Linked DNA regions of Homo sapiens. The protein of the gene in region 2 interacts with the protein of the main gene of each other region in a pairwise test. Each region holds a gene or a part of one and is shown on either strand. Other genes may lie near its edges.

Region 1 (15,960 bases), on a different chromosome or scaffold from region 2:
GTTTTCAAGACAAGATCTCACTCTATTGCCCAGGCTGGAGAGCAGTAGTGCGATCATAGCTCACTGCAGCCTGAACTCCTGGGTTCAAGCTATTCTCCTGCCTCCATCTTCTAAAGTGCTGTGATTACAGGTCTGAGCCATGATGCTTGGCCTGTGTTTTTGTTTGTTTGTTTTGGGGGACAGGGTCTTGCTTTGTCACCAAAACTGGAGTGTAGTGGTGCGAACATAGCTAGCTCACTGCAGCCTCCATCTCCCACGCTCAAGCAATCCTCTCACCTCAGCCTTCCAAGTAGCTGAGACCGCAGGTGCGTGCTACCATGCGTGGCTAATTTTCTATTTATATATTTATTTTTTGGTAGACATGAGGTCTTGTCATGTTTCCCAGGTGGTCTTTAACTCCTGGGCTCAGACAGTCCTCCCGCCTCAGCCACCCAAAGTGTTGGGATTACAGGCGTGAGCCACCATGCGTGGCATAATTTTTTTTAAGTAAATTATTTTTTTATCTTGAGTATAGAAGTGATTCATGTTCATTGTGGAAAATATGAAACATATAGAAAAACAGAAAAGATTACAAAACATCTAATCTGAAATGGTTAAGATTTTGATGAGAACAGTCTCATCTCATTTCCGTATATTCCTGCCAGCCTATCCATCATTCTTCGTACATGTTTATCTACATTAAAATTGGTGTTATATTTTGGAAACTTTTTGTTTAACTACATTGTGAACATTTTTCATGTTTTAAAATGTCATTTTAATGATGGCAGATCCTATTCAATAGATGTACACACACCTATTTAACTGGTCCACAATTGTTGGATATGTAGGTCGTTTCCTTTCTCTCTTTTTTTTTTTTTTTGGCTACTACTTAATAGTTTCTCTGTATAGAATGTGGTATTTTGAAAGTGTATCAAGCTTTAGATTGGTAGTATTCTTGCATTTAATAAAGGGCAGTGGCCTTTGTTGACTGACATGACAATATTTTTATAAAATTTGTTATTTGCTTTACAGAAATTTTGAAAATTATTGTAGAAATGTTTTTACCTCATATGAACCACCTGACATTGGAACAGACTTTCTTTTCACAAGTGTTACCAAAGGTATAATACTATTACCTGAAAATACATGTTATAAGGAATCTAGCCTCAGTCTTAGATGATTTATTATTAATTATGGCTCTCTTTTTCTAATATATCAAATATATTCAAAATAAAAATAAGGAGTAAGTAGATCTCATGTGAGACTATAATGGTGTTAGTGTGATCATTAGGCAGTTAAAAACTGTTACAGGCTGGGCACGGTGGCTCATGCCTGTAATCCCAGCTCTCTGAGAGGCTGAGGTGGGCAGATCATCTGAGGTCAGGAGTTCGAGACCACCCATGGTCAACATGATGAAACCTCGTCTCTACTAAAAGTACAAAAAATTAGCTGGACATGGTGGCAGGTGCCTGTAATCCCAGCTACTTGGGAGACTGAGACAGGAGAATTGCTTGAGCCTGGGAGGCGGAGGTTGCATTGAGTCAAGATCGTGCCATTGCACTCCAGCCTGGGCAATAAGAGCGATGCTCCGTCTCAAAAAAAAAAAAAAAAAAAAAAGAACTTATATTTTCAGATTGTGTGGTTCCTTTACTAACTGAATTTAAATTATTTGTAGTCAATTTTAAATGCTCTTGTATTTTAAAGCCACTGTACTCCAGCCTGGGTGACAGAGTGAAACCCTTAATTCAAAAAAAAAAAAAAAAAAAAGAAAAGCTGGAATATTGGCAAAATCAAGTAACTAAGAGAAAACATTAAATTCACAGAATACATTATTACATTTTAGATATATATGGTATATGTTTTCTCTGAAAAGCACAAGCATACCTTTTTTGTTTTAAATGGAGGGAACTAAAGATACTTTGGTGCCAAAATGAAACATTATTTGTAATTAATCTCTTATTGAAATGGGTTTCTAACTTTAGCTTTGAATCGTAATCTTTCAAATTTCTTGTACTCATAGTCACTTGATGATTCTCTATCTGAAATATTTCTTAGAATTTGTTCTTGACCACCAGAAAAAGATTCAACTGTTACATAGATGAAAATGGATGTTGAGTGTTAACAGGCCTATGGGAAACAGTATTTTCTTTAGCTACATTGTATTGTTGACTGTGTTGCTATTCTTATAATGTTTAGGTCATTTAAATTGTTAGAAAGATCCAAGTATTAAGATCTAGGGTGGCTAACTTTTCACAGACAAAAAGCTTGTTTGTAAGGTCATTTACTATACCCTTAATTCAGGAAGGTTAGCTTGAATTGGGTCAAAAGGAAACTGGTTAGAAAATAAGTGAGTAGTGAATAGGCGATTCAGTGCAAATTCCTTCCAGAAAATACCCTTGTAAATGACTGTATGAATGTGGATTCTTCAAGACAGTCAAATTTATTGTGCGAAAGTAATACTTTTATTTTTTGCATCTCTAAAACATGAACTTTGAGTGATTTTTTAAAAAAATTGATGCTATTAAATAGATTCAAACCATAGAAATGGAAAATAAATTTCTGTTTGGGGCTTTTGGGGGGATTATGTTGTAAAAATACCTTTTCTCTGTATTTTGTGCTTAATTAGGTACAATTGTTAAGCTAGATGATAGCCTGTGGATGTTACTAGTGCAAAATCAAATTATCGTATTGTGTTTTCTCTGTAAAGTTTTGTCTTGTCTTTTCTAGTGATTTCTCTTATTCCTGTTTATTACTTGATTTGTTTTTACAGACTGTGAAATTATTCGATGACATGATGTATGAATTAACCAGTCAAGCCAGAGGACTGTCAAGCCAAAATTTGGAAATCCAGACCACTCTAAGGAATATTTTACAAGTAAGTCAAATGTATTAGAAAGCAGGAGAGAGAGGGAGCTTAAAGAATGTCAAAATTTTTATACTGATACTGATTAGCTATGTATTCTTATGTAATGGCCTAATGTTGGAATTAAATTTATAGAATTAAAGACGTGAATATAGAAACATGAATTCTGAATAATAAACTCTTATAAGAAGAGAAGTCATCAAGCTAGCTGACCCTACCTGTATTTTCAAGGATATGTGTGGAACACCTGCCATGTGTTTTGAAGTTTGTGTTAGTATTCTAAATGGCTAGACAGTTGTTCCAGTATTTGTAGTTCTGATAGACTAAAGTTCTGTGAAAAGAGGAAGAGACTGTGTTTTGTTCATTGCTGTATTTGTAGCACCCAGCATGCTGACTAATACCTTTTCAGTGCACAAAAAATATATTCTAAGTGAAATTTCCTTCCTTATTCACAGACAATGGTGCAGCTCTTAGGAGCTCTCACAGGATGTGTTCAGCATATCTGTGCCACACAGGAATCCATCATTTTGGAAAATATTCAGAGTCTCCCCTCCTCAGTCCTTCATATAATTAAAAGCACATTTGTGCATTGTAAGGTGAGTAAAGGTCTAATTATACTTTGAATGGTATATAATCAATGTGCATAGGGGCTGAGTAAAATAATGTTTGTATAAGATTTTACATTTTAGTCTATATTATTGAAATAAACTTTTCCATAGAATAAAGAACATGTAAGTAAATAATTGTTGCAAAAAAAGTGGTTTTAAGGAAGTCATTAAAAGTGGCTTTTTGGGGTTTTTTAGTTTTATCTTATTTCCCCTCTATAAAGAAAGAAGTTTTAAGAATTTGTGTTGAGACAGACACAGGGATCCTGAAATAGTTATGTCATGTTGCATTGACCAATATTCAATTACCATTATGATTAGATGTCAGAACTTCCTTTTATAAAGGAAAGTTAATCCTTATTTAGTCCATCTCTACATGCCAGAGGTAGCCTTGAGGCACAAAAGCTTGCCTAGAATTTATGGGTCACAGACAGTTTTAATATTGCTATTTGTTGGGCGAATGAAAATCACTAGTTAATTAATACCTCTCTTTGCTGATAGGATGCTAAAAATGTCACGCACCTGGCCTAATGTTACCCTTTTTTAGTTCTGTATTTGCAAGATCATGGAAGTCAGAAATAATATTTTATACATGCTTGCATCTCTTGAAGCACACTATATTTAATGGATGTTCACTAAACAATGAATGAATATGTGATTCAGTAAATTTATGATCTCTAATAGTATGAATTAAAGTAAATTTGGCTCTTGAGCTTTGATTTGTTTTTTCTCTCATTTTTATTTATCCGTAATCAGAATAGTGAATCTGTGTATTCTGGGTGTTTACACCTAGTTTCAGACCTTCTCCAGGCTCTTTTCAAGGAGGCCTATTCTCTTCAAAAGCAGTTAATGGAACTGCTGGACATGGTTTGCATGGACCCTTTAGTAGATGACAATGATGATATTTTGAATATGGTAATAGGTGAGTGAAGAAAACTTTCTGCTTAGTATATGGTGACTATAAATCATGTATCAATTAAAATTGTCTCTAATGATTCATGTTATTTTCTTACTAATTATGCATTAAAATTGATTTAAATCTTACCAAATAAATTTTTAATCTTGAAATTTGGAATTTGTAAAATTTATTTTGGGTACCTTAACCTAGATTTGCGTATTTAGTTACTGTAATTTCTCCACAATGATTAACTTATATAACTTTATAATCTCTGAGGTTGTCCATATTCAGAGACAATAACTTTCACATTTTTTTAACCATAACTGATATTGAGATGCAGTTTATATTTCCTTCCAGAATACATATAAATACGTGCATATGTGTATGTAAATATGTCTATTCTCATATACATATTATAATGAAATAACTCATTTTACATGTGATGCACTTTATACTAGTTTATTTTTATTTTATTTTATTTTTTTGAGACAGAGTCTCACTGTGTAGCCCAGGCTGGAGTGCAGTGGCACAATCTCGGCTCACTGCAACCTCGCCTCCCGGACTCAAGCGATTCTCCTGCCTCAGCCTCATGAGTAGCTGGGATTATAGGCGTCCGCCACCACACCTGGCTAATTTTTGTATTTTTAGTAGAGACAGGGTTTCACCGTGTTGGCCAGGCTGGTCTTGAACTCCTGACCTCAGGTAATCCACCTGCCTCAGCCTCCCAAAGTGCTGGGATTACAGGCATGAGCCACCGTGCCCAGCCAATACTAGTTTATTTTTAAAGAATTGCTGGTCGTAACACACTTCATTGATTTTATCACTCATTAATGGATTATGAACAAGAGTTTGAAAAACAATATAAAGGCAAAGTTTGCATTCAAAACTTTGGTATAAAGAGAGTAAGTTGGTTTTGTGCAGTGTATCAGGCACCTGTTGCTCTGCAACACACCACCTCAAAATCTATTTATTCACTATTTATTTATTCATGATTCTGTGAGTCTGCAGTTTAGGGTGGGATGTCCTGAGACAACTTTCTCTGATCCACCTGGGGCACTAGCTCACCCATGTGACTTCAGTGACTTCATTCACATCTGGCTGTTGGCAGAGGCAGAAGTACTTGAGAAAGCCATGTGCATCATCCAGCAGGTTCACCCTATCTCAGATACCTGATGCCAGTGGTTTCAGGGTTTCTAAGAGTAGCAAAAGTGTGAGCAGGTCGCTGTGTGCTAGCACTTTTCAAGTTTCTGCTTGCCTTAATTTTATTATTGTCCCCCGGGCCACAGCAGGTCATAGCGTTTAGCCCAGAGTCATTGTAGAAAAGTGTGGATTCACAAAGGGCAGTCATTGTGGCCATTTTTATAAATAATCTACCACAGACTGAGTAAAAGCCTTGCATGAATACCATGGATATTAATTTGAATTCTTCCTTTTTAGATTTTCTTTCCTTAGCAATTTGTTTTGTCATTTTGGATTAGAATTATATCTGTAGAATATTTCAGTTATAATAGGGTACAACTTTTATTCCACTGAACATCTTTAGTTTTATTTAGGTCATCTGGTAGGTATAAACTTCAGAAGTTAATATTCAATATTTATAAAAACCATTAACAAGTGTGACACTTAAATAGTTTAAATAATTCTTTTGACACAACTGTTTCCAAGTTGTGTTACGTATTTTAATTCAATCAAATGTTGAAATTGTTCAGTAGATAGTTTTAATTATAGGAGAAACTCACCCCCATGACATTTGGATGTCTTAAAAGTTCTGTTATCTTTCTTTGCAGTTATTCATTCTTTATTGGATATCTGCTCTGTTATTTCCAGTATGGACCATGCATTTCATGCCAATACTTGGAAGTTTATAATTAAGTAAGTTTGTTTGTTATTTTTTACTTTTTAGAAAATGTTTTCCATATTCCCCAATCTTAATTATTCATGATTCTTTAGATTGCATTTAAAACATTTTGTGTGAATTTAATGTTCACTGACACTGCTGTCTGATAATCCAGATATTCTACATGTAGCTCTCAAGCCAAATTGGACTTCTTTACCCTGTGGCCTCTAAAATTAAAAAAAATGTTCTTCCTAGTTAGCTAGTACTTCAGAAATAATGGGCCATGGGCCAGACTAGAACTTAACCACTTTTCTTCTGCTACTGTTGTTTAACCAGCTATCAAGTATCCTATTTCTAGGATTAGATAAATTGATAACTATAATTAAAACTGAATATAATCTTTTCATTAGGTACTTTTAAGTTGTTCACACTTAATTCCATTTGTACAGTAATTTTAACTTTCTGAAACTGAAGCATTTTAAAGGGTCACCAGGGATAGTGCCTGTAGCATTCATCAGATTCTTAGGGGTGAGAGGAGATGTGGTTGAGATGTAAAAATGGTTAAGAATATCTACTTTATACACATACATAAAACATTAAAGGTCAGTGTATTTTCAGGTCTTAGGTACTTTTCTTGTACTACCAGGACATTAAGTTGCCATTCAGTGGTTAAGAGTGTTGCCTGGGAGCTGTATCACATGTGCTTAAATCCATTCTTGAAATCATTTACTCCTTCTGAGCCCTTGGGCTATTTGGTTAATTTCTCTGAACGTTAGTTTGCTCATCTGAAAATGGAAATAATAATAGCAACTTCTTGACAGGGTTATAGTGAGAATTGAGTTCATCACTGTGAAATGCTTAGAAATGTGCATGACACATAGTTAATACTCAAGGAATTAGCCACATCACTATCATCATCACTGATTATCTTCCACTCTTACCCTCTTCCAGTTCATTTTCTGCCCAGCAGAATGATCTTTTAAAAAGTAAATCAGATCATGTTACTCTATTGCTTGAAGTCTATCCCATTTGATTAAGAATAACAACCTAATCCTCTGTGGATGCTGCCTCCTTCACCAGCCTGTCTCATGCTGCTCTCCCTACTCTTAGTTCCTCAAACATACCAAACTCTCCTGTCCCAGAGTCTTTTCGTGGTTTTTCCATCTGCCTAGGATGCTTCTCTCTCCTATTTTGTGTACCTTGCTAACTCCTGCTTACTGTCTTTCAGTTCTCAGCTTAAGAGTTATATCTTCATGATAACATTCTTTGATATCCTTACCCTAAGATTAAGTTAGATTGATATCCTTACCCTAAGAATAAGTTAGATTAGGTCTCTCTATTGTAGCACCTTAGACTCTGTCATTTGACAAATCACAGCCCTAATTAATTATTCTTAAAATTATTTAACATTCTCTCTCATGCTAGACCACAAGTTTCATGCAGGTAAGGCGGAGATTGTGTCCATTTGTTTGACCCCTTTGTCTCCAGGGCCTGGTAGAATGCCTCATACATAGTAAGAATTCAATTAATATTTTACACAGAGAAAAAATTAGCAACTTATTTAAACAAATATAACTGCTTCAGAGGTAAACTGGGCACATCTTAGTTATATTATGTGATATATGATGCTTTTTGATTGTTTTTTTAAATGTTCTACAAGGTAGATATTGTTAGAGGTCCTAAGTTACTTGATGTGTTACTTGTGGTGATTGTATTCTTTTCTTTTTATTCATTTAGGCAGAGCCTTAAGCACCAGTCCATAATAAAAAGCCAGTTGAAACACAAAGATATAATTACTAGCTTGTGTGAAGACATTCTTTTCTCCTTCCATTCTTGTTTACAGTTAGCTGAGCAGATGACACAGTCAGATGCACAGGTAAAATTTGGGCTAATAGCATTTTAAACAGCAACTCTTATTTTCTTTGGCAGTTAGTAAATCTCATTTGAATGTCTGGGTCAGTCTATTTAAGAGGATTTTAATTTATTTCATTTGGGTGTTTTTTTTTGATCTGTGGGATTATTTATATCCCATAATTACTTTTCACCCAGAGCATTGTATTAGATTCCTAACTGCTGTCATTGCCTCTGGGGTCTGCCTGGCTCCCTCTTTGCTTGGTAACTGGTTGGTCACAGCATTCTTCTCAGAATCCTTTCATTCTTTTCTGCATGAGAACAAAAATTCTTTTGTTCATATTTGTATAAGATCTGATATAGCTGCAATCAATCTTGCATTTTTTCTTCACCAACGCATTGCGACCTTTAGGGATACAAGTATGTTTGTGCATGTATATGTATGTATCAGTCTTTTAAATTTGATATAGTCATACATTTGTTTTTATTTTGAAAAGTTAGAGTGTTGAATTGGTATCCCATTTATGAAACATTATATTCTAAAAATTTGTAGTACGATTATTGGGAATTATAACTCATTTTCCTGTAACACTGTTATACATAGTACCTTTTGCTTTCAGACTAGCCCTCAATTTTATTTAACTATAGTAGTCCTAAATTATAAGATTAATAGTACTCAGGACCTAACAGTTATATGTCATTTGTTTTTTTTTTTTTTGAGATGGCGTCTCACTCTGTCACCCAAGCTGGAGTGCAGTGGTATGACCTTGGCTCACTGCAGCCTCTGCCTCACGGGTTCAAGGGATCGTTCTGCCTTAGCCTCCTGAGTAGCTGGGATTATAGGCGCCTGCCACCACGCCTGGCTAATTTTTTTAGTAGAGACGGGGTTTCGCCATGTTGGCCAGGCTGGTCTCGAACTCCTGACCTCAGGTGGTCCACCCGCCTTGGCCTCCCAAAGTGCTGGGATTACAGGTGTGAGCCACCGCGCCCAGCCTATATGTAATAATTTTAATGGGACCATGAATTGAATATTTCTTCCTTGAATAGCAATGACATAGCCCCTTCTATTGTACATCTGCAAGCTGATACAGGGAATTCCTTTGTACCTGCGCTCTTCCCTGCCAGTCAGCTATGGGGGTGAAAGTGTAGGGGTTCATCCAAGTCCTAAAACTGGTAGCAACTCCTAGGGCAGGGCTGATCTGGAAGGACAGACCCTAGGGGAGGGTGGAACTTTAAAAAGAAGTTCTGAAGGTAGTAAGAAGGAAATGAGGAGTAGTGTTAGGAAGGGGCTAACTTTTTTCTTCTTGCTTCTCTTCTTTATCTCACCTGCCCCTCCCCTTGTATCCCTTCTTCCTTTTTCCCTTTCCTTTTTTGTCCTCACTTCATTCGTGCATCCTTTCTGATTCCTCTTACCTTGCTAAAAGGAGAAGTTTGTTTGGGTATCCTATATCAATGGCAGGAAGGTTGTTTTCTTCTTTACCTTTATCCTATAGATTCATATTCTCAACACCAACCTCCTCCTTTTTCAGTTTCCTTCTTGCTTCTCTTGACACCACAGAGTTTGCAGCTAGTACTTGGAGAGGAAAATTAAACAGAGATACTTGGACCAAGAGTAAGATGAAGAAAGTCTAAACAACAGTATAGTCTATAGTGGCAAGAGAGAGTATGGGGGCTGCTTAGCCAGGGTGGCTGTACATAAAGTATATCTTCAGTTTATATAAACTGCTTATAGATGGAAATCAGAAAATTTAAATTCTCTTAACTGTCCAAGAAAATTCTCATTTTTTCAAATTTGGGACTGATAAATGTGACCAGTTCTGCTTACTGTCCATTGCCTGAAATGGAGCTTTGAGGTGGACTGTATAATTTCTTCAATCTTAACTCCAAATTCTGATCAGCGACGCCCTCTGCTGTTCACTATTAATATTTATTTACCAATCAAAGTAAAGTATTGAAGTTTTCCTGGCAGTTTTCACTTTGTGTTTTAGTCCATTTAGGCTGCTATAACAAAATCCCTTAAACTGGGTAAGGGATTATAAATATTAGAAATTTATCTCTCACAGTTCTGGAAGCTGGGAAGCCCAATATCAAGGCACCAGTAGATTTGGTGTCTAACGAGGGTGTGCCGTCTGCTTCAAAAATGGCCCCTTGTTGCTGCATCCTCACTTAGTGCAAGGGGCAAGACAGCTCCCTTCAACCTCTTTTATAAGGGCACTTATGTCATTCATGAGGGCAGAGCCCTCATGACTTAATCACTTCCCCAAAGGCCCCACCTCTTAATAGTATCACATTGGGTGTTAGGTGTCTGGGAGGACACCAATCTTCAAGCCATATCATCTCACTTGGAAAAAAGTCAAAATAAAACCAGTAGATTTAATTAATATTACACTATTTATAGAAGCATGTGATGTATCATTCCTTGTATTAATTTCCTGGGGTTGCCGTAACAAGTTACCACAAACTAGGTGGCTTAAAACAATAGAATTTTATTCTCTCACATTTCTAGAGGCAGAAGTTCACAGTGTGTCAATAGGGCCATGTTCTCTGGAAGGCTTTAGGGGAGAATATATTTCATATCTTTCTCTTAGCTTCTCGGTGTCACTGGCAATCCTTAGCTTACTTTGGCTTTCTGTGTCTTCACATCATCTTTTTATAAGAACACCAGTGATAGTGATTAAGGGCATACCTTACTTTAATATGACCTCATCTTAACTAATTATGTCTTCAATAACCCTATTTCCAAATAAGGCCACATTCTGAAGTATTGGGAGTTAGAACTTAAAGCTTTTTGGGAGGGACACAGTTCAACCCATAACAACCCCTAAAATCGATATTTATTCTCAATTAAGTCTTGAAATTGGTTTCAAAAAGAGAATATTCTATTAGAGTTTTTAATGTATAGTTTTAACATATAGTTCTTTAGCCCCCAATTTTTTTTTTTTTTTTTTTTTTTTTTTTTTTTTTTTGAGACGGAGTCTCGCTCTGTCGCCCAGGCCGGACTGCGGACTGCAGTGGCGCAATCTCGGCTCACTGCAAGCTCCGCTTCCCGGGTTCACGCCATTCCCCTGCCTCAGCCTCCCGAGTAGCTGGGACTACAGGCGCCTGCCACCGCGCCCGGCTAATTTTTTTGTATTTTTAGTAGAGACGGGGTTTCACCTTGTTAGCCAGGATGGTCTCGATCTCCTGACCTCATGATCCACCCGCCTCGGCCTCCCAAAGTGCTGGGATTACAGGCGTGAGCCACCGCGCCCGGCCTGCCCCCAATTATTTAGTTTTTCTATAAACAGGGAAATTTATTTGTGTGGCCCTTAGAACTAATTTAATTTCCACTCTAATTCCTACTTATGTTTATATAATGCTTTTAGAAATTTGTATTATTCAGAAAATAAACATATACTATTGTATCTGTTGCCTACACTTAGATTTTATTGCCTGCTATATTTAAATTTTATTAGTATTTTAATTGTTTTATTAAAGAAAGAATGTGCCTGTAATCTCAGCACTTTTGAGAGGCCAAGGCAGAAGGATTGCTTGAGCCCAGGAGTTTGAGACCAGACTGAGCAACACAGGGAGACCCCCATCTCTACAAAAAATAAAAAAATTCTCCAGGCCTCATGGCACATACCTGTAGTTCTAGTTACTTGGGAGACTGGGGTGGGAGGATGCATTGAGCCCAGGAGATTGAGGCTGCAGTGAGCCATGATCAGGCCACTGTACTCCAGCTTGGACAACAGAGTGAGAGCTTGTCTAGATAGATAGATAGATAGATAATCTAAATAGATAATAGACAGATTATCTAAATAGATAATAGACAGATTATCTAAATAGATAATAGACAGATTATCTAAATAGATAATAGACAGATTATCTAAATAGATAATAGACAGATTATCTAAATAGATAATAGACAGATTATCTATCTAAATAGATAATAGATTATCTAAATAGATAATAGATAGATAGATTAGATAGATAGATAGATAGATAGAGCTTGGACAACAGAGTGAGAGCCTGTCTAGATAGATAGAAACAAAGAAAGAAAGAAAGAATGGTGCTCATATTTTAAAGCATTGAAAAATGGTCTTCCTTGCTTATATTACCCACACCTTCTTTGTTGGCATTAAGATGCAAACTTTGTTTTAAACAGTTGAGTAAATCAAAGATGGGACTGTTAAGTTATTTGTGTTATTTACCTGCTTTTTGAAAATGTAAAAATAAAACTCTAGGTTTAATTAGTAGTATGCTATTTAGTAATGAAGTAAAGCTAGAGGCTTCGAACAAATCTTGTGTAATTTCCTCTTGAATGAGAGAGAAAATTTAAAGTAAGCAAACAAATAAGTTGTGTGTCACCACTCATTCAGTCATTTAACAAGTATTTCCAGAGTACTTATTCTGTGCCAGGAAATGTTGTAGGTGCCCTCAACAACTTAGAGTCTAGCCTGAGACACAAGTAAGTAGGTAATTATTATAGAATGGTATGATCTTTGGAGGACTGGGTATTGGCTGGCTCATGGGAGTACAAGATAGGTACCCAGTGATGAAGTCAGGAAAGGTTTCTTATGGTGATATGATGACGTCTATGCTGATTATAAGGTCAGTGTAGAATAAACTTTGTGCTTTTAAATTTGCATAGCACTGTATTAGAGAGTTCATCTTCAAAATAATCGAAAAGGCTGAGTGTGGTGACCCATGGCTGTAATCCCAGCACTTTGGGAGGCCGAGGTGGGCAGATTGCTTGAGCTAGGAGTTCGAGACCAGGCTGGCCAACATGGTGAAACCCCGTCTCTACTAAAAATACAAAAATTAGCCAGGAGTGATGGTGCGCACCTGTAATGCCAGCTACTTGGGAGGCTGAGGCAGGAGGATCACTTGAACCCAGGAGGTGGAGGTTGAAGTAAGCCGAGGTCATGCCACTGCACTCCAGCCTGGGCAACAGAGTGAGACTCCATCTCAAAAAAAAAAAAAATGATCAAAGAAAGGTGAATTTTCATCTACCCTATTTCTGCTGAGGAAAATGGACTATTTTCAAATATTTTTAATAAGGGTCAAAATGAGGGATCATATTCCATTAGCGAACCATCCAACTCTGTTTTGATTTGGTTTAATGAAGATTTTGCTATATTGGAAAAGAAACATAGCCAATCAACATATAAGTTAAGATATGTTATTTTCATATGAAATAATTCACAAATTAAAGACAGTAATTTATTTGACTTAATTTTATGGCACTATTTAAAGCTGTTTGGATTATAGTGTGTATTATAAACTTGGGTGGTGGAACAACCAATATTTATTGAGCTAAGTTGCTTAAACGTCAGACACTGTTTAAATCTCACAATAATCCTGTATTAGCCTCATTATAGATGAGAAAACTGGGCCACAGAAAGGTTTAATAACTTTCCCCAGATCATATAGTAGTTGTAGTAGGACCAGGACTTAAATCCAGGCAGATGAATCTATAGCCCTCCCTGCATATTATTGGCACTACCCACTGTTTTATCAATTTACAAATGTAATACGTAATCAGAAAACTCACACATATTACACAAGTATCTAACATGGAAGGTTAAATCCTATTTTCGTCTACTAGAAAGAATCACAGGAAAGGTTTTGATTTATTTTGGGGGTGGTTTAACACATTTAAAAATAATGATAGGATTGTGTTATCATTAGAGTCAATAGACAAATCTCTGAAAACAGAACGTTTTATTTGGGAGGAAGTAATTGCACTTTGGAGCATTCATGCAGACCAATTGTTCGGTATGTCCACAGAAAAAGGAGAAGGTTAGCGGTCTTATAAAAAAGGAGACATATTACATATAGCTCTTCAAGAAAGTCCATTGGCACTAGATTTGGGGAGCTGTCAAGCTCTGATTGGTGAGTGATGGCAGTGGGTAACACTGGTCTTAGAGTTGCACTAGTTTCTTTCAGTAGCCCTTAGATAAAACTGGTTTCCGGTTACAGCAGGCAGTTTCAGCAGCCAGGCCTACAGAGAATTACATTTTGGGAGAAATGTTTTGTGCCCTGAGTGCTTTTCCCCTAGGCCTGTTGACTCTGTTTTAGTTGGGTATGACAAGAATGACTCAATTTTTGTAATTAATTTTACATTATACAAGTTGTTTACAATTTGATTTTTTACTTAACAGTTTATCCTTAGGGCTTTCTGTGTCCATGAAGATATATGTACCTGATTCTTATGTGATTATACTATAAATTTATAGTTGACCCTTGAACAATGCAGGTCTGAACTGCACAGGTCAACTTATGCAGACTTTTTTAAATTGTCATTTATTACCATAAAATAATACAAATCTATTATCAAAGGTTAAAATTTATCAAAACTTAGCACACAGAGACCATACATGGTACCATGCAGTTGAGAGAAATGTAAACAAAGGTAAATATGCAGTATTAAATCATAACTGCATAAAATTAACTGTGGTACATATTGTAGTACTATTAGGTTGTGCCAAAGTAATTGCAGTTTTTGCCATTATTTTCTATATATTCAGTATACAATAATTTCATAGCCACTTCCTGTTGCTGTTACTGTGAAAAGTGTTGCAAGGCCATGTGATACTAACCATCCCCACGTGAGCAGTTTGTCTCTCCAGTAAGTAAATTGCTTTTCTCAGTAAAAAGTTATTGCTTGAGGTGCCTCCATATTTTTTCATCATCTTTAATGCAATATGGAAACCCATAAGAAGTGCCACTAGTGATCCTGGAAGTGCTCCCGAGAATTCCTTGATACATATTGTAAATTGAGGTCTGCAACTGCAATTACCTGCCATTTCAGATAGATGATTCTTCTTGTAAATAGACAGTGTTAATACATATACAAAATATGTTAATCAGCTCTTTTTATTAGTAAGGCTTATAGTCAGTGGTAGGCTATTAGTAGTTAAGTTTTGGGAGACTCAAAAGTTATCCTCGGATTTTAGACCACATGGGGGTTGGCACCCCTAGACCCCATGTTGTTCAAAGGTCAACTGTATTTAGGTGTTCTCCACATGATGCACACTTGGTACATTTCAGTTTTCACTATATAAAAAAAGTTTTGTTTTTTTTTTTGTAAAGCGAAAGCAAGTTTATTAAGAAAGTAAAGGAATAAGGCCAGGCGCGGTGGCTCACGCCTGTAATCCCAGCACTTTGGGAGGCAGAGGTGGGTAGATCATGAGGTCAGGAGTTGGAGACCAGCCTGGCCAACGTGGTAAAACCCCATCTCTACTAAAAATACAAAAATTAGCTGGGCACAGTGGTGGGTGCCTGTAATCCCAGCTACTCCGGAGGCTGAGGCAGGAGAATCTCTTGAACCCAGGAGGTGGAGGTTGCAGTGAGCCGAGATCGCGCCACTGCACTCCAGCCTGGGTGACAGAGCAAGACTCTGTCTCAAAAAAAAAAAAAAGAAAAGAATAAAGAATGGTTACTCCATAGGTGGAGCAACCCCTAAGTCTCCTGGTTGGCCACTTTTATGGCCATTTCCTGATTTATATGCTAAACAAGGGGTAGATTATTCCCTTTCTGGGAAAGGGGTGGGCAATTCCCAGAACTAAGGGTTTCTCCCCTTTGTAGATCATATAGGGTAACTTCTGGTTGTTGCCAGGGTATTTGTAAACTGTGATGGAACTGATGGGAGTATCTTTTATCATGCTAATGCATTATAATTAGTGTATAGTGAGCAGTGAGGACAACCAGAAGTCACTTTTGTCACCATCTTAGATTTGGTGGGTTTTGGCCAGCTTCTCTACTGCATGCTGTTTTATCAGCAAGGTCTTTGTGACCTGTCTTGTGCTGACCTCCTATCTCATCCTGTGACTTAGGATGCCTAACCTGGAAATGCAGTCCTGTAGGTCTTGTCCTCATTTTACTCAGCCCCTTTTCAAGATGGAGTCCTCTGGTTAAAACACCTCTGACATATTTCCCTCCT
Region 2 (15,960 bases):
AACATCTTTGACATTTACTATTCTGACATGTCCTCCATAATATTTGGTTTATGTGAGATAACCTGACCATAATGACAATCACTGGATTTTCCTAATACCTGTTTTTCATATGTTTTTCAGTATATTAAAAACTGAAGCCGGGCATGATGGCTCATGTCTATAATCCCAGCACTTTGGAAGGCCAAGGTGGGCAGATCTCTTGAGCCTCAGGAGTTTGAGACCAGCCTGGGCAACATAGCAAGACCCCAGCCATACAAAAAATAAAAAATTAGCCCTGTGTCAGGTGACAGAACAAGATTCTGTCTCAAAAAAGAAAAAGAAAAAACATTGAAAATTCAATTGACTATAGAAACATAGTTCCAGCACAATATTAAATACCCAATTAATAACTAAGATGGGCTGGGCATGGTGGCTTATGCCTGTAATCCCAGCACTTTGGGAAGCCAAGGCAGGCGGATCACCTGAGGTCAGGAGTTCGAGACCAACCTGGCCAATATGGTGAAACCCCATTTCTACTAAAAATACAAAAATTAGCCTGGCGTGGTGGCAGGCACCTGTAATCCCAGCTACTCGTGAGGCTGAGGCAGGAGAATCTCTTGAACCTGGTAGGCGGAGGCTGCAGTGAGCCAAGATCACGCCACTGCATTCCAGCCTGGGCGACAGAGCAAGACTCCATCTCGAAAAAAAAAAAATAATAATAATAATAATTAAGACGATCTGTAACTCCAATTCAATTCTAAAGACTAGTAAGACATAAGGCCTTGCTAACCCATTTACTATTTTTTTAAGTTTTTTCTTAAAATAATTTATTATTATTATTTTTTAAGCCTACAGCATGCAGTATTCCCAGGTTCCATTTACTATTGAAGTAAGAACGATAGGGCTTATCATTTGTTTTGCTGATCCACTTGCCCATACACAATAGAACCTGTGATCTAGCAAGTGGCATGCTATTTGTTCAGCCAAGAATTGCTGTTCATGTTCTGTAGATAGATAGGTAGATGATAGAATAGATAGATAGATACATAGATAGGAAGGATACTAATGATATGAATACTTTCTCCTCTCTTAATATTTCTATTTCTATTCCTGTTACTAATGCTTTCTTTCTATTTCCAGTAAGTTACTAGGAGGTGGAATTGAAAGTATGGCAATTACAGAAGCTTTTGGAGGTAGGTAGAACCTTAATATTTTGTTAAATGAAATATTATACACACACACATACACATCTATGTGTATACATACACATATAATTAAATAAACAACCAATAATAAATTGTAAGTATTTTGGAACTTACAAAATCTCAATTATCATAACATGAGATCATTCTGTACTGCAACGAAAATATATATGAACATTAACAGATGGGTCTTATCAACACTTTTCATCTTTTATTTGTGATTCCTATAGAAGATAATAGATTTTTTTTTTTTTTTTTGAGACGGAGTCTCGCTGTGTCACCCAGGTCCAGGCTGGAGTGCAGTGGCGCAATCTCGGCTTCCTGCAAGCTCTGCCTCCCGGGTTCACGCCATTCTCCTGCCTCAGCCTCCCGAGTAGCTGGGACTACAGGCGCCTGCCACCACTCCCAGCTAATTTTTTTGTATTTTTAGTGGAGACGGGGTTTCACCATGTTAGCCAGGATGGTCTTGATCTCCTGACCTCGGCCTTCCAAAGTGCTGGGATTACAGGCGTGAGCCACTGCGCCCAGCTGATAATAGATTTTTTTTCACTTATTTGTTCAAAAGGTAATTGAATAATGAGGCTGATTTTATTTCTAGGCAATTAATGTTCCATGAACATAGAGACTAGATTCCCTCTTCCCTGATTATATCCTCTATTTTTTTTTTTAAATAATAGATAAAGGGTCTCGCTATGTTGCCCAAGATGGTCTCGAACTCCTGGACTCAAGCAATCCTCCCACTTTGACCTCCCAAAGTATTGGGATTACAGGCATGAGCCACTGCACCCGTCCTATCCTCTATTTTTAAAAAGCAATTCATGCATAGCTACACTGTGTATCACATCTGGGAATTCCAGTATTTGCTGTCCTTGGAGAACTAAATCTGTTTTTTTTTTTTTTTTTTCTGTTGACTTGGGCACTAAATCTGGTTTTCATTATTTCTGTTGACTCAGTCTTAGTGGCTTACCTTCTTCTGTATTTATTGGTGTTTCTGAGCTTATTGTTTGATTTTAATCTATGAAAGTTCAATGGACCTGGATTGGTAGGTAGGAAAGTTTTCCTCCAGAACGAATTTGCTTTTGCTGGTAGCTAGGGGATGGCACCAGTTTAAGACTACTTCAGCTCCCCTTTAAGGACCTCAGTTCAGTAGGGGAACCCCAGGCTTTCTTTCCTGTGGTGGGGTCTTTATTTTATTTTCATTTATTTATTTATTTATTTAGAGATGGAGTCTTGCTCTGTCTCCCAGGCTGCAGTGCAGTGGTGCCATCTCGGCTCACTGCAACCTCTGCCTCCTAGGTTCAAGCAATTCTGCCTCAGCTTCCTGTGTAGCTGGGATTACAGGCAACTGCCACCACGCCTGGCTGATTTTTTTTTTTTTTTTTTTTTTTTTTGGAGATGGAGTCTCGCTCTGTTGCCCAGGCTGGAGTGCAGTGGCCTGATCTTGGCTCACTGCAACTTCTGCCTCCCAGGTTCAAGCAATTCTGCCTCAGCCTCCCAAGTAGCTGGGACTATAGGTGCACGCCACCACACCCAGCTAATTTTTTATTTTTTAGTAGAGATGGCATTTCACCATGTTGCCCAGGCTGGTCTCGAACTCCTGAGCTCATGCAGCCTGCCCGCCTCGGCCTCCCAAAGTGCTAGGATTACAGGCATGAGCCACCATGCCCAGCTAATTGTTGTATTTTTGGTAGAGATGGGGTTTCACCATGTTTGCCAGGCTGGTCTCGAACTCCTGACCTCAAGTGATCCATTCATCTCATCCTCCCAAAGTGCTGGGATTACAGGTGTGAGTCACCGCACTTTACCCCAGGTGGTAGGGTCTTAAACTTTCTTTTTTTTTTTTTTTTTTTGAGACGGAGTCTCGCTCTGTCACCCAGGCTGGAGTGCAGTGGCGCGATCTCGGCTCACTGCAAGCTCCGCCTCCCGAGTTCACACCATTCTGCTGCCTCAGCCTCCCGAGTAGCTGGGACTACAGGCGCCCACCACCACACCCAGCTAATTTTTTGTATTTTTAGTAGAGATGGGGTTACACAGTGTTAGCCAGGATGGTCTCAATCCCCTGACCTTGTGATCCACCCGCCTCAGCCTCCCAAAGTGCTGGGATTACAGGCATAAGCCACCGCGCCCGGCCTTAAACTTTCATTTATATGACTGTTACTAAGGAAAACTTGATTTAAATTAATTTATATTAAACAAATAAGGCCGGGCGTGGTGGCTCACACCTGTAATCCCAGCACTTTGGGAGGCTGAGGTGGGCGGATCACCTGAGTTCAGGAGTTTGAGACCAGCCTGGCCAATATGGTGAAACCCCATCTCTACTTAAAATACAAAAACTAGCCGGGCGTGGTGGCAGGCACCTGTAATCCCAGCTACTCAGGAGGCTGAGTCAGGAGAATCGCTTGAACCCGGGAGGTGAAGGTTGCAGTGAGCTGAGATCGTGCCACTGCACTCCAGCCTGAGTGAGAGCAAGACTCTGTCTCAAAAAAAAAATAAAAAATAACATCCGAGATACTTTATAAGTAAGATTTGCCAGTTGGAAAAGAAAAAGAAAACAGTAATATTCTAAAGCCATGTTTTATTCTTTATGAAAATATCTGGAAATTATGCATTTTTAAAATCATTTTTTTCTGTATTTCACAGAATTTCGTACTGGAAAAACCCAGCTTTCTCATACCCTCTGTGGTAAGGATATATAACAACAATAACAATAATAATCATGGCTATTACTTATCAAACATCTACTATGTGCCTGATACTCTAAATAATCTCATATCTGAACATACTTGCAAGGAAACTAAAACACAGGCAGATTAAGTAAACTGCCCGTGGTTATACAGCTGGTCTTTGAATGTGTGATCCTTGAGGTGATGTATGTGCTGCACTATGAACACCTGAGTAGAAATAGAGAGAAGTTGAATGGGTGTATGAATGTGTTGGTGAGGAGTCCACTGTCTCAGTTTTTCCCATTCCATCTTTTCTATATCTTTTTTAGAAGAGTGACACAAAATCTATTGAGTCCTAGAATCTTTCACTTTCCATGGCATAAAATTGGCCCTAAGAGAGACTTAAAAACAAAATTGTTTTAAACAAAATAACGAAAGATATCTCCTTTTCCACAAATACACTACTGTGCATTTCTTTGAGCTATGGAGAAGGAACTTGGCAAAGTGGTTAAGAAAGGAGTTCTGGCCGGGCCCGGTGGCTCACGCCTGTAATCCCAGCACTTTGGGAGGCCGAGGCGGGCGGATCACAAGGTCAGGAGATCCAGACCATCCTGGCTAACACGGTGAAACCCGGTCTCTACTAAAAATACAAAAAAATTAGCCGGGCATGGTGGCGGGCGCCTGTAGTCCCAGCTGCTGGGGAGGCTGAGGCAGGAGAATGGCGTGAACCCGGGAGGCGGAGCTTGCAGTGAGCCGATATCGCGCCACTGCACTCCAGCCTGGGCAACAGAGCAAGACTCGTCTCAAAAAAAAAAAAAAAAAAAAAAAGAAAGGAGTTCTGGAATCAAAATGCCGGACTTCAATCCTGGTTCTATCGTTAGTAGCTGTGTGACCTTGGGCAAGTTGCTCTACTTCTCTAATTTCCCCCACCAATAAAATTGAAATAATGACAGTGCCAAATGTTAGGATTGTTTTGAAAAGTAAATGAAATAATGTATGTACCTGGTATAAAGTAGCTCCTTAGTGTTAACTACTACTACATAAAAAGTAATTGCAGTCTAGCGTGGTGGCTCACACCTGTAATCCCAGCACTTTGGGAGGCCAAGGCAGGAGGATCTCCTGAAGTCAGGAGTTTGAGACCAGCCTGGTAAACATGGTGAAACCCTGTCTCTACTAAAAAATACAAAAGTTAGCTGGGCCTGGTTGAACATGCCTGTAATCCCAGCTACTGGGGAGGCTGAGGTCAGAGAATCACTTGAACCCGGGAGGCAGAGGTTGCCGTGGGCCGAGATCGTGCCACTGTACTCCAGCCTGGGCGACAAAGTGAGACCTGTCTCGAAAAAAAAAGTAAATGCATTTTTAAAATTTGACATACATTAATTTAAAGGTAACATATTAGTTATATAGCATAAATTATATTTGTGACTTTTTTTTTTTGAGACGGAGTCTCGCTGTGTCACCCAGGTTAGAGTGCAGTGGCGCGATCTCAGCTCACTGCAACCTCCGCCTCCCAGGTTCAAGCGATTCTCCTGCCTCAGTCTCCTGAGTAGCTGGGATTACAGGCACTCACGACCATGCCCGGCTAATTTTTGTTTTTTGTATTTTCAGTAGAGATGGGGTTTCACCATGTTGATGAGGCTGGTCTCAAACTCCTGACCTCATGATCCGCCCACTCGGCCTATTTGTGACTATTTCTTTCTTTTTTTTCTTTTTTCTTTCTTTCTTTCTTTCTTTCTTTTTTTTTTTTTTTTTTTGAGATGGAGTCTTGATCTATCACCCAGGCTGGACTGCAGTGGCACGATCTCAGCTCACTGCAACCTCCGCCTCCCAGGTTCAAGCAATTCTCCTGCCTCAGCCTCCAGAGTAGCTGGGATTACAGGCATGCACCACCACACCCAGCTAATTTTTGTATTTTTAGTAGAGACAGGGTTTTACCATGTTGGTCATGCTGGTCTTGAACCCTTGACCTCAAATGATCCACCCACCTTGGCCTCCCAAAGTGCTGGGATTACAGGCATGAGCCACCATGCCCGGCCATATTTGTGACTATTTCTTGTAGAAAGAAAGTTAGTAGGTTGGGCGCGGTGGCTCAAGCCTGTAATCCCAGCACTTTGGGAGGCCGAGGTGGGCAGATCACGAGGTCAGGAGATCAAGACCATCCTGGCCAACATGGTGAAACCCCATCTCTACTAAAAGTATAAAAATTAGCTGGGTGTGGCAGTGCCTGCCTGTAGTCCCAGCTACTTGGGAGGCTGAGGCAGAAGAATTGCTTGAACCCGGGAGGCGGAGATTGCAGTGAGCTGAGATTGCGCCACTGCACTCCAACCTGACGACAGAGCTAGACTCGTCTCAAAAAAAAAAAAAAAAGAAAAGAAAAGAAAAAGAAAGAAAATTAGTAATATTTAAATTTTATTTCCATTCTTTGGGAGAACTAACTTTCACGAATATCTTCCATTGTGAAAGATAGTGAAATTATTTGTTGAATAACAACTATGCTGGCAGAATACTTATAATTTCACACTGGTTAAGTAATATGAAAATATAACATGTTGTTTAGAAACGAAAGGATCATGACTCTTTGCAAAATGTACTAAAGAGTTGCAACAGCAGATTCCATGTGTATTTATATAGTCATGTGTACAAAGTTTATTCACTCCTATTAATATAAATTTTTAATTGCTTCCTAGTGACAGCTCAACTTCCAGGAGCTGGTGGCTACCCAGGAGGAAAGATTATCTTCATTGATACAGAAAATACTTTGTAACCTTTTTATTTAAAGTTGCTAACATAATAGTGTGATATAGGAATGTTACCACTGAAGAGTTTGTCTGAGATATACAATCTTTGTAGTCATTCCATAAACCAGTAGTAATGAGACAAACCAAAGGGAAAACAATTACTGTTTAAGTTCTCCAATCACTTTGTATTTAATGAGGTTTCACTTCTTCATATGGGTTTATGAGACAAAACAAATACATGAGAGGAAATTATATCATCATTTTTAATCCTCTTACTTCTCTAAAGATGTTGCTTAATAGTTAGAAAAAAGATTTTTTTTTTTTTGAGACGGAATCTCCCTGTTGCCCAGGCTGGAGTCCAGTGGGGCAATCTCGGCTCACTGCAACCTCCATCTCTTGGGTTCAATCAATTCTCCTGCCTCAGCCTACCGAGTAGCTGGGATTACAGGTGTGTGCCACCACACCTGGCTAATTTTTTTGTATTTTTAGTAGAGACAGGGTTTTGACATGTTGACCAGGCTGTTCTGGAACTCCTGACCTCAGGTGATCCACCTGCCTCAGCCTCCCACAGTGCTAGGATTACAGGGGTGAGCGACTGCGCCTGGCTGAAAGATTATTGACTCACTGAAAGTCATGGTCCCAAATGAAGGGAACGGTATGAAGAGGGTGAAAGTTAATAAGGAAAACAGGCAGAACCTGTTTGGGTAACACAACGAATTGCAGTTTAATTAAAGTGTAAGGTATTCCAGGATATGGGCTAGAAAGATGATTGGGATCTTAGACATGAAAGGCTTTGAAACAAGATAGTGGGTGTAAACTGGATACTTTAGCAATATTCTAGGCAAGTAATGAGAACTTGATCTAGGTTGGAACTGGTAAGAATAAAAAGAAAAGGAAAAGAAGTATTAGGAAAATTGATAGGACTTGATGGCTATATTTGGTAGACAAAGGAAAGACAGGTTTGAGAAACCGCTCAGGTTTTTTGTCTAGATACTAGGAGAATAGTTATGTGATGCTAACAATAGAACTGGAAAGATCATGCTTCAGAGAAAAAGAGAAAAGGTGATGTTTCATTTTAATGTACTAATTTTACTTTTTTTTTTTTGAGACAGTGTCTTTCTCCATCACCCAGGCTGGAATGCAGTGGTGCAGTCTCAACTCACTGCAACCTCAGCTTCCCAAGTAGCTAAGTTTACAAATGTACACCACCACACCTGGCTAATTTTTGTATTTTTAATACAGATGGGGTTTCGCCATGTTGGCCAGGCTGGTTTTGAACTCCTGACCTCAAGTGATCCACCCACCTCAGCCTCCCAAAGTGTTGGAATTATAGGCGTGAGCCATCACGCCTGGCCTAATTTTTTTCTTCTTTTGAGACAGGTTCTTGCTCTGTTGCCCAGGCTGGAGTGCAGTGGCCCAATTACACTCACTGCAGACTCGAACTCCCAGGGTCAAGTGATCCTCCCACTTCAGCCTTCTGAGTAGCTGGAACTACAGGCACATACCACCACGCCTGGCTAATTTTTTTTATCTTTTGTAGAGACCAGGTTTCACCACGTTGCCCAGGCTGATCTCCAACTCCTGGGCTCAAGCGATCTGCCTGCCTTGGCCTCCCAAAGGACTGGGATTACAGGCATGAGCCATTGCACCCAGCCATCATTTTAATGTATTGAATATGATGTACATGAGGATATCCAGATGGCACTGGGAAATATTGAATTCAGCTTGAGAAAGGGGTAGGCCCAGAAATATGGACGAATTAACCAAGGGGGAAAGAGAACTTATAGAGAGAGAAGAGAGGAGAATTGAGAACATAACTTTGAGGTATGTTTATATTTAGGAAGAGGACTAAAATGAGAAACCCAGAGACAGAGGAAGTAGAAGGAAATCTGGTTGTAAAAGTCAAGCAAAAGGAAAGTTTCAAGACGATGAGTTGTCAGCAATGTTACACACACACGGATTTTGAGGATACAGCCTGAGAAAGATCATTATAAGTTCAAAATTAGGAGTTCAAGCGAACATTTGCCATAGGGTGAGGTGATAGAAGCTTTATGTAAACAAACAACAAGGGAGGGAGGCAGTATGAAATTGACCAATGAAAGGAAGAAGGCTAGGCACCGTGGCTCACGCCTGTAATCCCAGCACTTTGGGAGGCTGAGGCGGGTGGATTACCTGAGGTCAGGAGTTCGAGACCAGCCTGACCAACATGGAGAAACCCTGTCTCTACTAAAAATACAAAATTAGCCGGGCGTGGCGGCACATGCCTGTATTTCCAGCTACTCAGGAGGCTTAGGCAGGAGAATCGCTTGAACTGGGAGGCGGAGGTTGCGGTGAGCCGAGATCGTGCCATTGCACTCCAGCCTGGGCAACAAGAGGGAAACTCCGTCTCAAAAAAAAAAACAAAAACAAATAGGAAGAAAAAATATACTAGTTTGAGGAGGTATTCAGAGGAAATTCTTTTTAATAACAAAGAAGACCTATGCACATTTGTAAGGCTGTTCACAGTGAAGCCCCAGCCTGCCTCTCCAAGCTCAGTACTCACCATTGCCACTATTAGAGGCAAAGAGATGAATCTGTTTTAGTCCATCCCATTGCCTGTAAACATACTTTGTTATCAAAATTTGCACATATGTCTAGTCTCACTCCAGTGATCCCAGCACTTTGGGAGGCCAAGGCAGGAAGATCACTTGAGGCCAGGAGTTCAAGACCAGCCTGGGCAACATAGTGTCTCTACGAAATAAATTTTAAATTAGCCAGGTGTGGTTGCTATAAATCCCAGCTACTTGGAAGGCTGAGGCAGGAGGCTTATTTGAGGCCAGGAGTTCATGATTAGCCTGGGCAACATAGCAAGACTCTGTCTCTACCAAAAGAAAAAAAATCTAAAAACATTGTACATCAGCAGTTATTTAGATTTAACTATAAAGATTTTTGTTTTCTTTGTTCATTATGGTTTCTTGCATCCCAGATGTTATTTTTTCCTGTATTTTTGTTTTGCTGTAATACTTATTTCTTTCAGAAATGTAATACAGGTGGTAAACTTTGAACCTTAGTATGTCTGAAAGTGCCTTTATTTTGCTCTCACTCTTGGCTGTTAATTTGTCTGGTCACAGAGAACTTTGCATGGTATATTTCTATCTTCTTGGGTATTTGCTCCTTCCATCCCCATCTCACAGTCTTTCTGAATCATACAAATCATTTAAGGCTCTCATTTCAAGGCCTGCTTTTTCTAATCTTCCCTAATTACTCAATTTAGAAAATCTTGTCCTTCTTGACCTATTATAGAATTTACTATCTAAAATACTCACTTAGAAAACAAAACAGAGAACTGTTTGCAGAAGTCCCTTTTCAGAAATGCCAGGCATAAGAAGTCTCTGAAAGAGCCTTTTAACTTGGGGAAGGAGGGTGAAATGTCGTACAGGGCTTTAACAAGGGTGCTCAGCTGGAGTTCAGCTGGTTTCAGAAACAATTGATTAAGGATGATTCTTATCTCAGAGAGGGAAGAATTGTTCTTGCAGAGTAGCAGCCACTGTTTGGGCAATTTGGAGTTTTTTTTTTTCGAGATGGAGTTTCACTCTTGTTGCCCAGGCTGGAGTGCAATGGTGCGATCTCGGCTCACTACAACCTCCATCTCCCAGGTTCAAGCGATTCTCCTCCTCAGCCTCCCGAGTAGCTGCGATTACAGGTGCATGCCACCACACCCGGCTAATTTTGTATTTTTAGTAGAGACAGGGTTTCTCCATGTTGGTCGGGCTGGTCTCGAACTCCCGACCTCAGGTGATCCACCCACCTTGGCCTCCCAAAGTGCTGGGATTACAGGCGTGAGCCACGATGCCCGGCCTGCAATTTGGATTTTACTAAGAACAATAGGAATACTTAGGAGCTAAGTCATATGCAAGAGAGAGTGGAGAAGAACAGCTGGGTGGGGGTGCAGGGCACTGTGGCAAGGGCCACATTGGAGTGTTCTCATTCTTTCCGTGTCTCATACTTATACTGCTGTCTCTTGATAGTTTTCTTTTTATATGTTTATATTTTGCCTCCTTAATTATGTTTTAAATTTACCTAGGGCATAGGTTGTCTTAGGACTCCTTATATCCTCCATAATGCTTTGCCTTGGTAATTGATTAATATGGTAATTAATTCCATATGGTAATTGGTTAATAAATATTTATAATTGATCTGAACTTCCCTTCAGCATAAGCCCAAGTTTTTTCATTTTAAATTGTTTTGGCTGGCCGCTGTGGCTCACACCTGTAATCCTAGCACTTTGGGAGGCCGACGCGGGCGGATCACGAGGTCAGGAAATCGAGACCAACCTGGCTAACACGGTGAAACCCTGTCTCTACTAAAAATACAAAAAATTAGCCAGGCGCAGTGGTGGGCACCTGTAGTCCCAGCTACTCGGGAGGCTGAGGCAGGAGATGGTGTGAACCCGCGAGGCGGAGCTTGCAGTGAGCCGAGATAGCGCCACTGCAGTCCGGCCTGGGCGACAGAGCGAGACTCCATCTCAAAAAAAAAAAATTGTTTTGTTTTGTTTTTGGGACAGGGTCTCGCTCTGTCGCCTAGGCTGGAGTGCAATGACGTGATCATGGATCACTGCTGCCTCAACATCCAGGACTCAAGTGATCCTCCCACCTCAGCTTCTCAAGTAACTGGGACTACAGGTGCGTGCCACCATGCCCAGCTAATTTTTGTATTTTTTTGGTAGAGATAGGGTCTCACCATGTTGCCCAGGCTGGTCTCCAACTCCTGAGCTCTAGTGATCCTCCCACCTGGGCCTCCCAAAGTGCTGGGATTACAGATATAAGCCACCATGCCTGGTTTTGTTATTCCCTGTCTTTTGTATAAAAGCCATATTAACTGGGGTGAGATGATATTTCATTGTAGTTTTGATTTGCATTTCTCTGATGATCAGTGACATTGAGCACCTTTTCATATAGCTATTTGCCATTTGTATGTCTTCTGTGAACCCAGAGAATCTGAGACAGGTCTGAGTTAGTTTAGAGAGTTTATTTTGCTGCCGGGCGCAGTGGCTCATGCCTGTAATCCCAGCACTTTGGGAGGCCAAGGTGGGCAGATCACAAGGTCAGGAGATTGAGACCATCCTGGCCAACATGGTGAAACCCCGTCTCTACTAAAATACAAAAAAAAAAAAAATTAGCCGGGCATGGTGGCACGTGCCTGTAGTCCCAGCTACTCAGGAGGCTGAGGCAGGGGAATTGCTTGATTCCAGGAGGTGGAGGTTGCAGTGAGCTGAGATCGCGCCACTGCACTCCAGCCTGGGGACAGAGCAAGACTCTGTCTCAAAAAAAAAAAAAAGAAAGTTTATTTTGCCAAGATTGGGGATACGCCCGTGACACAGCCTCAGGAAGTCCTGACGACGTGTGCCCAAGGTGGTTGGGGCACAGCTTGGTTCTACACATTTTGGGAGACATGAGACATCTATCAGTATATGTAAGAAGAACATTGGTCCAGTCTGGAAAGGCGGGACAACCTGAAGCAAAGACAGGAAGACTAAGCAAAGCAAGGAGTGGGCTTCCAGGTCACAGATAGGTGAGACACAAATGGTTGCATTCTTTTGAGTTTCTGATTATCCTTTCCAAAGGAGGCAATCAGATATGCATCTATCTCAGTGAGCAGAGGAGTGACTTTGAATAGAATGAAAGGCAGGTTTGCCATAAGCAGTTTCCAGTTTGAGTTTTCCTTAGTGATTTTGGAGGCCCAAGATATTTTCCTTTCACACTTCTTTTGAGAAATGTCTTTTCAGATATTTTGCCCATTTTTAAATAAGATTATTAGATTTTTTTCCTATAGAGTAGTTTGAACTTTTTATATATTCTGGTTATTAATCCCTTGTCAGATGGATAGTTTGCAAATATTTTCTCAGCAAGGCAATTTTACTTCTATAAAAGGGTGTGACTCACTGATGGAGCAATGGCGAGAGCACATCTGAACAAGGGAGGGGAAGGGGGTTTTATTCCTGACTCAAGTAGCCCCTACTGCTGTGTCATTCCCCTATTGGCTAGGGTTGGACTGCACAGTCTAAGCTAATTCCGACTGGCTATTTTAAAGAGAGCAGGGTTATGAGTCGGAGTGGTGGAGTGAGTAGTTTGGCAGGAAGGATGGTTAGGAACAGGTGACTAAAGGTGACTCAGGTCAGAGCAGGTGACCAGGGGTGACTTAGGACAGAGCAATTGACCAGGGGAGACTCAGCATGGAGTAGATGACCAGGGGAACAGATGTAAACTACTGATTAGAACTGATGGAAAAGGTTGTTTACTGAAACTAGGGGCAAGAAAGCAAGAAGAAGGAGGAAGTTAACCTTTAAAATGGAGAACAAAGAACAGGGGAGCTGAACATACTGATACATTGGTTCCTTGGAGAGGATCTCAAAACTCATTGTACTTAACAATTTACAGGCAGCTGGGCACTATGGCTCACACCTGTAATCCCAGCACTTTGGGAGGCCGAGGTGGGTGGATCACGAGGTCAGGAGATCAAGACCATCCTGGCTAACATGGTGAAACCCCATCTCTACTAAAAATACAAAAAATTAGCCGGGCATGGTGGCGGGCACCTGTAGTCGCAGCTACTCAGGTGGCTGAGGCAGGAGAATGGCGTGAACCTGGGAGGTGGAGCTTGCAGTGAGCCGAGATCATGCCATTGCACTCCAGCCTGGGTGACAGAGCGAGACTCCGTCTCAAAAAAAAAAAAAAAAACAATTTACAGGCTAAAACCTTTGAAGAGGAATTTATTATATCCTACAGTTGACTGTGCTTGTGTGGTATTACTCAAGAAATCTTTACCCAGTCCAGTGTTCTACAGAGTTTCCCCAATGCTTCCTTTTAGTAGTTTCATAGTTTGAGGTCTTAGATTTAAGTCTTTAATCCATTTTTATTTGATTTTTGTATATGGTGAGAGATAGGGGTCTAATTTCATTCTTCTGCTTATGGATATCCCATTTTCCCAGCACCATTTACTGAAGAGACCGTCCTTTCTCCAATGTATGTTATTGGCACCTTTGTCGAAAATGAGTTCACTGTAGGTGTGTGGATTTGTTTCTGAGTTTTATATTCTGTTCCATTGGTCTATGCATCTGTTTTTATGCCCATACCGTGCTGTTTTGGATACTATAGCTCTATAGTATAATTTGAAGTCAGGTTATGTGGTTCCTTTAGTTTCGTTCTTTTTGCTCAAGATAGCTTTGGCTATTCTGGGTCTTTTGTGGTTCCATATAAATTTTAGGGTTGTTTTTCTATTTCTCTGAAGAATGTCATTGGTATTTTGATAGGAATTGCATTGATTCTGTAGATTGCTGTGTTTAGTATGGACATTTTAACAGTACTGATTCTTCCAACTCATGAACATGCAATATCTTTCTGTTTTTTGTGTGTCCTCTTCAATGTATTTCATCAATGTTTTATAGTTTTCATTGTAGAGATCCTTCACTTCTTTGGTTAAGTTAATTTCTAGGTCTTTAATTTTATTTGTAGCTATTGTAAATGGGATTAATTTTTGAATTTCTTTTTCAGATTGTTCCCTGTCGGTATTTAGAAATGCTGCTGATTTTTGTATGTTGATTTTGTATCCTGCAACTTTACTGAATTTGTTTATCAGTTCTAATAGCTTTTTGGTGGAGTCTGGGTTTTTCCAAACATAAGATCTTATTATCAGCAAACAAGGATAATTTGACTTCCTCCTTTTCAATCTGGATGACCTTTATTTATTTCTCTTGTCTGATTGCTCTAGCTAGGACTTTGAGAATTATGTTGAATAACAGTGGTGAAAGTGGGCATACTTGTTCCAGATCTTAGAGGAAAGACTTTCAGTTTTTCCCCATCTAGTATGATACTAGCTGTGGGTCTGTTGTGTATGGTTTTTATGTTGGGTTATGTTCCTTCTATACCCAATTTTTTGAGGGTTTTTTTTTTATCATAAATGAACGTTGAATTTTATCAAATGCTTTTTTCAGCATCAATTGAAATGATCATATGTTTTTTGTCCGTTCTGTTGATATATCACATTGATTTGTATATGTTGAACCATCCTTGCATCCCTGAGACGAATCCTACTTGGTCATGATGAATGATCTGTTTAATGTATTGTTGAATTTGGTTTGCTAGTATTTTGTTGAGGATTTAAGCCCAAGTTTTACACCCGCGGTCACATTGTTCCCAGACCAAACTGAGGATCAGGCTGCTTATTCTTATGGCCCAATAATGAGATGCAAATGAACTGGGAAAGGAGGGAGTTTTTGTTTCCGTAACCGGTTACAGGGAGAAGACCTGGAAAATAACACCAGACCAACTCAAAATTACAAAGTCTTCCAGAACTTATATACCTTCTCAGCTATATGTTTATTGTAAGTGTGCATTCATCTAACGACATAAGTCACTTTGAGAGGCCGAGGTGGGTGGAACACTTGAAGTCAGGAGTTCAAGACCATCCTGGCCAACATGGCGAAACCTTGTCTCTACTAAAAATACAAAAATTAGCTGGGCATGGTGGCACACGCCTGTAGTCCCAGCTACTCAGGATGCTCAGGCAAGAGAATCACTTGAACCAGGGAGGCAGAGGTTGCAGTGAGCCGAGATTGTGCCACTGGACTCCAGCCTGAGCAACAGAGTGAGACTCCATCTCAAAAAAATAAAATAAAAATTTTTAAAAATATATAAGTGATTAACTTCTTTTGATCTATAACTAAGATCTGAGTCCTAAAGACATTCCTCTGGAGCCTCAGTAAATTTACTTAATCTAAATGGGTCCAGGTGCTGGGGTGATTACCCTTATCTTATCTCCTGCTAAATCATGGAGGTTTGGGGAGTTCCTTCAGACCCCCAATAACTTGTTTGTGGAGACCTAGGGAGTTTCTTCAGGCCCCCAGTAAAACTCGTTTAATCCTAAACAGGTACTGTTAAGAATTTCTTCATTATCTTGTCATGCTTCAAGGCCCAGGAAAGGCCTGGGCAAAACTCTTGGTGGCCTTTTGTTACATTCCAGCCTTTGTATAAGGGCACTTTCAGCTTTTAATATTTAACTTAACCACTCAGTCAGTGCTGAAACAGTTGTTATGGAGGCCTGCATTAGTAAGACCTGGCCTGCCACAACATAGTATCTGGGATTTGTAGAAACCGACATGATGAAAATGTTTTTATTGCCTCTTCCAATTCCCTGTCTAACTTGTCCACCAAAAACATCTACTGGGTATACTCAATAACAATGGAAGATTTTTGTGGCTGTCACCAAAGCTCTAACAACAAGAACATATCTAGTGCATTAGGATATAAATGGCTGGGAATTTAAATTAATTGCAAACATCACAAATAAGATTATAAATGGTCCTTGATTTACAGTTACTTATACTGGGATCAGTGTTATGTA

The links.
Region 1: the proteins of DMC1 (region 2) and FIRRM interact in a two-hybrid assay, tested with the Homo sapiens proteins (one study listed by BioGRID).

Annotation. Positions count from the first base shown.
Region 1 is NC_000001.11:169,799,872-169,815,831, forward strand, and holds part of FIRRM (FIGNL1-interacting regulator of recombination and mitosis), read left to right. Parts: intron 1-1,011; coding exon of another isoform or gene 1,012-1,034; coding exon 1,035-1,100; intron 1,101-2,749; coding exon 2,750-2,854; intron 2,855-3,297; coding exon 3,298-3,438; intron 3,439-4,203; coding exon 4,204-4,369; coding exon of another isoform or gene 4,370-4,377; exon of another isoform or gene 4,378-4,515; intron 4,516-6,132; coding exon 6,133-6,217; intron 6,218-7,919; coding exon 7,920-8,058; intron 8,059-15,960. UniProt on the Homo sapiens protein: Regulates PLK1 kinase activity at kinetochores and promotes faithful chromosome segregation in prometaphase by bridging kinase and phosphatase activities.
Region 2 is NC_000022.11:38,540,569-38,556,528, reverse strand, and holds part of DMC1 (meiotic recombination protein DMC1/LIM15 homolog), read left to right. Parts: intron 1-1,119; coding exon 1,120-1,172; intron 1,173-3,821; coding exon 3,822-3,863; intron 3,864-6,531; coding exon 6,532-6,604; intron 6,605-15,960. UniProt on the Homo sapiens protein: Participates in meiotic recombination, specifically in homologous strand assimilation, which is required for the resolution of meiotic double-strand breaks.